Homo sapiens: one gene and its partner. The protein of the gene in region 2 purifies or fractionates together with the protein of the main gene of each other region. This does not show direct contact. Each region holds a gene or a part of one and is shown on either strand. Other genes may lie near its edges.

Region 1 (3,500 bases), on a different chromosome or scaffold from region 2:
AGGAGTGGGAGCCCAGACAGGTGTGGGGCAGATGCTGCAGGCACTGAGTATCTGACTCAGCGGTGAGAACTTGCATGGGGCATTCGTGAGCTCCAAAGTAGTCTCATCATGCTTGAACCTCAAACATGCAGGGGAGGATGAAGCGTTTGTATATGGCTGTATTCTGATATGTTAATATTATCCTTTATTCCAGAAATAGGATTTTATATGCAGATGTATGCATCTATTTATTTATAGGAAAAGCTTAGCAGTGACAGCTAGAACATCAGTTCTTCTATACACCGCTTTCTCCTAACGCTTTTTCTGGTATCTAGGACTCACTTGAATGAAAATCCTGTTTCCATTGGTTATTCAGTCTTCTGCTTCTGAGAGCAGCTGCATGATGTCCTGTTGGTTATCACAAAGCCCTGTATTTTAGTAGAGGAATTTATGGAATATCATTCTCCTTGACCTGAGCCCAATTTTAATAACCAGCTTTAAAGTATACAAGCATATAATTAAATGAAAATAGCTAATGTAGGCTTTCTAGAGATAATTGTAATAATTGAAATTATGGAAAATAAAGTGAAAAAACTGCAGAGGTTTTACACTTGCTTTTTTTTCACTGGAATCCTGTTTTATTTTCCTTAACGAAAATGTGGGCTAGCATATGATATTTAGGCACATGGTTTACTAAACTTTTTTTGCATTTTTTAAAAAATGATTGTCTTTTTGACTGAAGAACTTAAGAAACTGTCATCGTGAATCAATGAAACTTACTAAGAATGGGATCCATTTGCAGCATCCTATAGCTTCTCTAAAATTCTGCCCCTAGGGACCCATGATATTATTGAGATTTATTATTAGTGAGATCACTTTGTGGGCATATCATTTTATCTTTGCGGTAGCTAGTTCCCCTTGGATGGTACCTGGAATAAGCATATTTGATAGTAAATTCTTTAAGTAAAGTCAAATGAGATCAACATGTCACTAAATACTTTCATTGTATATTGTGCTTTAAGATACATCTTTCCTTTGTAGCAGCTCAGTACCTATTTATTAGACGTGAAGCTTTATATTTCTTTCTTTAGATTAGTAATCTTTTTATACATATTGATAGGCCTTCTCTAATTCCAAGTTCAGATACAACCTATTGACAGTGTTTAGAGTTGCTTTATTCAGCAGTACACATTGCGAAGCTGCTCCCTGCTATAATACAGTGTCATTGTTGATGTAAGCACTTTCAAGGGTTCTTTTTTGTGTTTATACAGGCATGCCAGAATCACTCTTGTACTGCTCCCTGCACGATCCAGTCAGCCCCTGCCCGGCTGGTTATGTAACAAACAAGGTGTGTTTTCAGAAGGGTCTCCAAGGCTGCAGCTTTGTCCCAGGAAGTCAGCCTATGGTGTATCCCTCAGATGCTCAGATCCCACTGTCTGGGATGATCCCTTATACCTTTTCCTTATTTCGATAATTATAGTGGGATGGGATGGTTTATAAGACTTAGAGTAGGGCTGCCTAAGGATGAGGTTAAGATGAAGAACACTGTATCCTCAGCATTTTCATTGTTGCAAAAAAATTTGAGGGTAGAGGAGGGTCAAATACATGCCAAAAAAAGAAATTGCTATGATAGGGGAAAACGATAGTCTTTCGGCGCCATGCTTTGTTGGATTTTTAACAACTTCAGGAAGAGTGGGGAAAGTTGCTGATGAGTATTATCACATGTATAACTATATATAGTAGAATCTCAATATAATATTGTCTGCTGGGTCTACAGCCAGAGATTTTGTCTAGTGAAGAACAGTATCAAAAGCACCTCATTAAAAGTGTTAGGCTGAGAGGTGGCCCCATTGGCATTATCCCTGAGGACAGCATTCTGGCAAAGCTTCAGTGTGTACTGCTACTTTACAAACGCAAATACTTTTCCTGCACTCACTTTATTAATGTCAGCAATATTTATTAATTGTGCCCCTCAGAACACTGTTTTTACTCATTCTCCTGTTTTAAGTTTCTATTTATTTTGTAGTTTGAATTCTAGAGAAAATACTTTGGCTGGGTATGGTGGCTCATGCATGTAATCCCAGCACTTTGGTAGGCCAAGGTGGGTAGATGGCTTGAGCCTCAGGAGTTCGAGATCAGCCTGTCCAACATGGCAAAACCCCATCTCTACTACAGATACAAAAATTAGCCAGGTGTGGTGGCACACGCCTATAATCCCAGCTACTTGGGAGGTGGAGGCAAGAGAATCACTTGAACCTGGGAGGCAGAGGTGGCAGTGAGCCAAAGTCGCACCAGTGCATTGCATTCTAGCCTGGGTGATAGAGCGAGACTCTGTCTCAAAAAAAAAAAAAAATACTTTGACTTCCATTTTCTACCCAAATTGTAAGGGAGAGAGGAATCATTTAACCAGTAATTCTGATGCCTTAGTATAAAATAAAACGACTATATGTTGGCCTGCCATCTATGTCCTTGTTGATCTGAGAAGAGGGATCTGTAGGGTAACCAAAGATAGAATTTTTTTTTCCCTTTTTTTAACTTTTATTTTTGTTTCGGGGGTACGTGTAAACATTGTTACATAGGTAAATTTGTGTCATGGGGGTTTGTTGTACAGATTATTTCATCACTGAGGTATTAAGCCTAGTACCCAATAGTTACCTTTTATCCTTCTCTCCCTCCTTTCACCCTTCACTCACAAGTAGACCCCAGTGTCTGTTGTTCCCTTCTTTGTGTCCATGTGTTCTCATCATTTAGCCCCCACTTATAAGTGAGAACATGTGGTATTTGATTTTCTGTTCCTGCATTTGTTTGCTAGGGACAATGGCCTCCAGTTCCATCTATGTTCCTGCAAAAGACGTGACCTCATTCTTTTTTATGGCTGTATAATATCCCATGGTATATATGTACCACATTTTCTTTATCCAATCTATCATTGATGGACATTTAGGTTGATTGCATGTCTTTGCTATTGTGAATAGTGCTGCAATGTACATTTGCATGCATGTGTCCTTATGGCGGAATGATTTATATTGCTCTGGGTATATGCCCAGTAACGGGATTGCTGGGTTGAATGGTAGTTTTGCTTTTAGCTCAAAGATAGAATATTACTAATATATACTCTCTTGAACTAGGAGATTTAAGTCTTTAATTCTATATCTAACTCAGTCTAGTAAACACTAGATATTAAAAATGTATAGGGCCCTAGACTGTGCTTTTGGGATACATACATGAATTGGGATACTCTAGTCAGACAAATAAAGAATGGTGTAATAAGTGCTATCATTTCTATAAAGAAATAAATACAAATTGATGTAAGAGCATAGAGGAGTGAGTGATCGATTATGTCCAGGAGGTTTGGAGATCAGATTAATATGTGAACTCAGTGTCTCAATGGACACGTAGTATTTTGCCAGGCAAAGAAGTAGAAGTTCCAGCACCTAGAAATAATAAATACTTGAGGTGATGGATACTTAAATACTCTGACATGATTATTACACTTGCCCTATATGTAAGATGTCTCACAT
Region 2 (3,500 bases):
TAGCATCTGTGATAGCCAAACTCCAGAATGGTCCCCAGTGATTCTTGCCTCCTGGTATTCATGCCCCTTAGCAATCCCCTCCCATACGTAATAGGGCTGATCTGAATAACCATTAAGATATTACAGATAGGCTCTGGCTTCTGAGGCTAGGTCATAAAAGACACTGTGGCTTCTGCTTTGCTTTCTTGGATTGCCTGTTCTGTGGGGAGCCAGCCACTGAGTCGTGAAGCTGAATACTCTGGTAGCCTTGTGGAGAGGTCCTTGTTATAAGGAACTGAAGCCTCCTGCCAACAGCTGACACTGATCTGTCAGCCATGCAAGGTAACCATTTTGGAACAGGATCCTTGAGCCCCCGTCAAGTCTTCAGATGACTGCAGCCCTGGCTGCCATAATGGACTGCAATTTCATAAATTGCTGAGCTAAGCTAATTACTTAGCTAAGCTCCTCAATTCCAGACCCACATAACTATGTGAAATAATAAATGTATATTGTTGTTTTAAGCTGTTATTTTGGGGGTAATCTGTTACATAGAAACAGATAACTAACATACATTTAAGGAATAAATCTAATACAAGATGTGAAAGATTTATATAAAGCTATAAAACTTGCTGAAATATATGTAAGAAGACCTCAATAAGTGAACACTCAAAAACTACCAGTTATAGGCAGCACATGGTGGCTCACGCCTGTAATTCCAGTACTTTGGGAGGCTGAGGTGGGCAGATCACAAGGTCAGGAATTCAAGACCAGCCTGGCCAACATAGTGAAACCCCGTCTCTACTAAAAATGCAAAAAAAAATTAGCTGGGCGTGGTGGCGGGCATCTGTAGTCCCAGCTACTTGCGAGGCTGTAGAGAGATAAATGGCTAATAAGTACATAAAAAGATGCTCAACACCGTTTGTCATTAGGGAAATGTAAATGCAAATAAAAACTGTAATGAGGCCGGGTGAGATGGCTCTCACCTGTAATCCCAGCATTTTGGGAGGTTGAGGCGGGTGGATCACTTGAGGTCAGGAGTTTGAGACCAGCCTGGCCAACATGGCGAAACCCCTCTCTACTAAAAATACAAGAATTAGCCGGTGTGGTAGAACATGCCTACAGTCCCAGCTACTAGGAAGGCTGAGGCAGGAGAATCGCTTGAACCCCAGGGGCGGAGGTTGCAGTGAGCCAAGATTACGCCACTGAACTCCAGCCCAGGTGACAGAGCAAGACTCTATCTCAAAAAAAAAAAAAAAAGACTGTAATGAGATACCATTTCATACCCACTAGAATGACTACAATAAAAAAGACAATAACAAGTGTTGTAAAGGATTCAGGATAATTGGAACTCTAATACATTGTTGGTAGAACGTAAAATGGTACAGCTGCTATGGAAAACAGTTTAGCAGTTCCTCAAAAAAGTTAAACATAACAATTACCATATGACCCAGTAACACTACTCCTAGGTATACCCAAGAAAATTGAAAACATATGGCCATGCAAAAAGTGGTACATGAAATGTTCATAGTTCTACACAGCAGCACTATTCACAATAGCCAAAGAGTGAAACAACCCAAACGTCCATTCATGAACGAATGGCAAACAAAATGTGGTATATCCACACAATGGGATATTATTCAAGTCATGAATAGTAATGAAGTACTGATACAGCTACCTCAGGATGTACCTCCAAAACACTATGCTAAGTGAAAGAAGCCAGATACAAAAGGTCATATACTGTAGGATTCCAATGATAGAAAATGTCCAGACTAGACAAATCCACGGAGACAGGAAGTAAATTAAGTAAATTAGAGGTTTCCAAGGGATGAGGAGAGGGAGGGATAGGTAGTGACTGCTAATGGGTATGGTTGTTCTTTTTGGGGTAATAAAAATGTTCTAGAATTAGATAGTGGTAGAGTGTGAGTTCACAGCCACCATCTCCTCCTGCCCCAATATGCTGTACCTTGCCTGAAGGCTTCCAATTGTTTTCTTTGTTGTTCCCTGTGGAAAGCCATTGGCAGTAACATCCAAAGGCTGCTCAGGAACTGCACTCCAGCTGATGGCTATGAAAAGATAAGATTCTAGGGTTAAAACTGCTCAATTTCTTGTGAAAGTCAGAAGTATTTTAATAAAAATATTTCTCTGACTCTACAGACCCATGAGAGCTGGATATGATGTCACAGACAATGACTGCTATTGGATGCTTGGCCTCCAGGGTACAGTAGTCTAAGTGGTTCATAATTCATTATTATTATGATAGCTAACAATCACTGAGCATTTATTATTTGCTGGGCACAGAGTAAATGCATTAAACAGAATTTCTCACTGAATCTTCCCAATAACCCTGATAAATGATATTCTTCTAATCTGAAGACAAAGAAATTGAGGCCAAGGGAGGGTAAATAACATGCCGGGGGTCACAAGAGCATAAACGTGACCCACTATGGGTGTCTCTAAAGCCCACACTACCGGCCACTAGAGTGGTGAACTACCTTCCTAGGCTGGGAGGATGCCGACCCTCTGGGGCCACTCTCAGTCAGGGGAGCAGTTACTCCAGGGCAGGTCTAACCTGGATCTCTTACCTGCCCCACAAGGAACAAGTCGACCTGGGCTATCAGCCCTTTTTGCCTGCACCGCACTGCGGCTCTGTTCAAATAGTAAATCTGACTGCAGTATTTTTAATTCTTGAACTCCGAAGCCTTTTGGTAAAGCAGACACATTCTGACACCTAAATACAAGGGAAAATGCATTCAGTTTAGGTGCATGCCTAGAGAAAACAGTATCTAGGATTGTGGCTCACATCATCACCCCTGAGCCTTAGCAGGTGTGGGGATTTGTTTATTTATTTGGGCAGACAGTGTTTCAGAATAGAATCAAGATTGTAAGCACCTCATGGCTGGAAGAAGATCCTTCTCCCTCAATCTGCAGGGATAACTAAGAATCAAGTCAACACCCTTCAGGGATGTAACACCAAACTCCATTCCTGATATAGGCTTTGAGAAACTTGAAAAGTTTAAGCAGAAACATTAATGTGTTGGCACCTGCTTCCTAGGGAATCCTTCAAACACACCAAAACCCAAAATTATCCTATAATATAAAAGCTTCATTTTTTTCTCTTGTATCTTTGAACAAACTAGATGCCAACATGATGCTGGTCTAGAATGAAGCAGATAGCAACTGCAAGTACCAGAATAGGAAAAACAGAAAACATCCCAGGCACAGTGCCTAGGGTTGGCTTTTTTAAAAAAAAACAAAAAACCAACATCTTTATAGGGATATAGTTCACATACCATAAAATGTACTCATTTAAAGTGGATAATTCAATTGTTTTTAGTATATTCATAGAACTGTACAACTATCATGGTAATGTAATTTAAGGAATTTTCATCACCCCAGAAAGAAACCTCGTACCTATTAGCATTCACTCTCTATTCCCTGGTAACCACTTAAATTTTTTGTTTTTTTGAGATAGGGTCTCTGTTGCTCAGACTGGAGTGCAGTCACATGATCTCGGCTCACTG

What was found. Proteins that work in one complex are often made in the same cells at the same time.
Region 1: the proteins of ADAT1 (region 2) and QTRT2 fractionate together in Homo sapiens (co-fractionation; one large-scale study listed by BioGRID). This does not show direct contact.

Annotation. Positions count from the first base shown.
Region 1 is NC_000003.12:114,066,737-114,070,236, forward strand, and holds part of QTRT2 (queuine tRNA-ribosyltransferase accessory subunit 2), read left to right. Parts: intron 1-1,250; coding exon 1,251-1,327; intron 1,328-3,500. UniProt on the Homo sapiens protein: Non-catalytic subunit of the queuine tRNA-ribosyltransferase (TGT) that catalyzes the base-exchange of a guanine (G) residue with queuine (Q) at position 34 (anticodon wobble position) in tRNAs with GU(N) anticodons (tRNA-Asp, -Asn, -His and -Tyr), resulting in the hypermodified nucleoside queuosine (7-(((4,5-cis-dihydroxy-2-cyclopenten-1-yl)amino)methyl)-7-deazaguanosine).
Region 2 is NC_000016.10:75,606,282-75,609,781, forward strand, and holds part of ADAT1 (tRNA-specific adenosine deaminase 1), read right to left. Parts: intron 2,708-3,500; coding exon 2,562-2,707; intron 2,043-2,561; coding exon 1,943-2,042; intron 1-1,942. UniProt on the Homo sapiens protein: Specifically deaminates adenosine-37 to inosine in tRNA-Ala.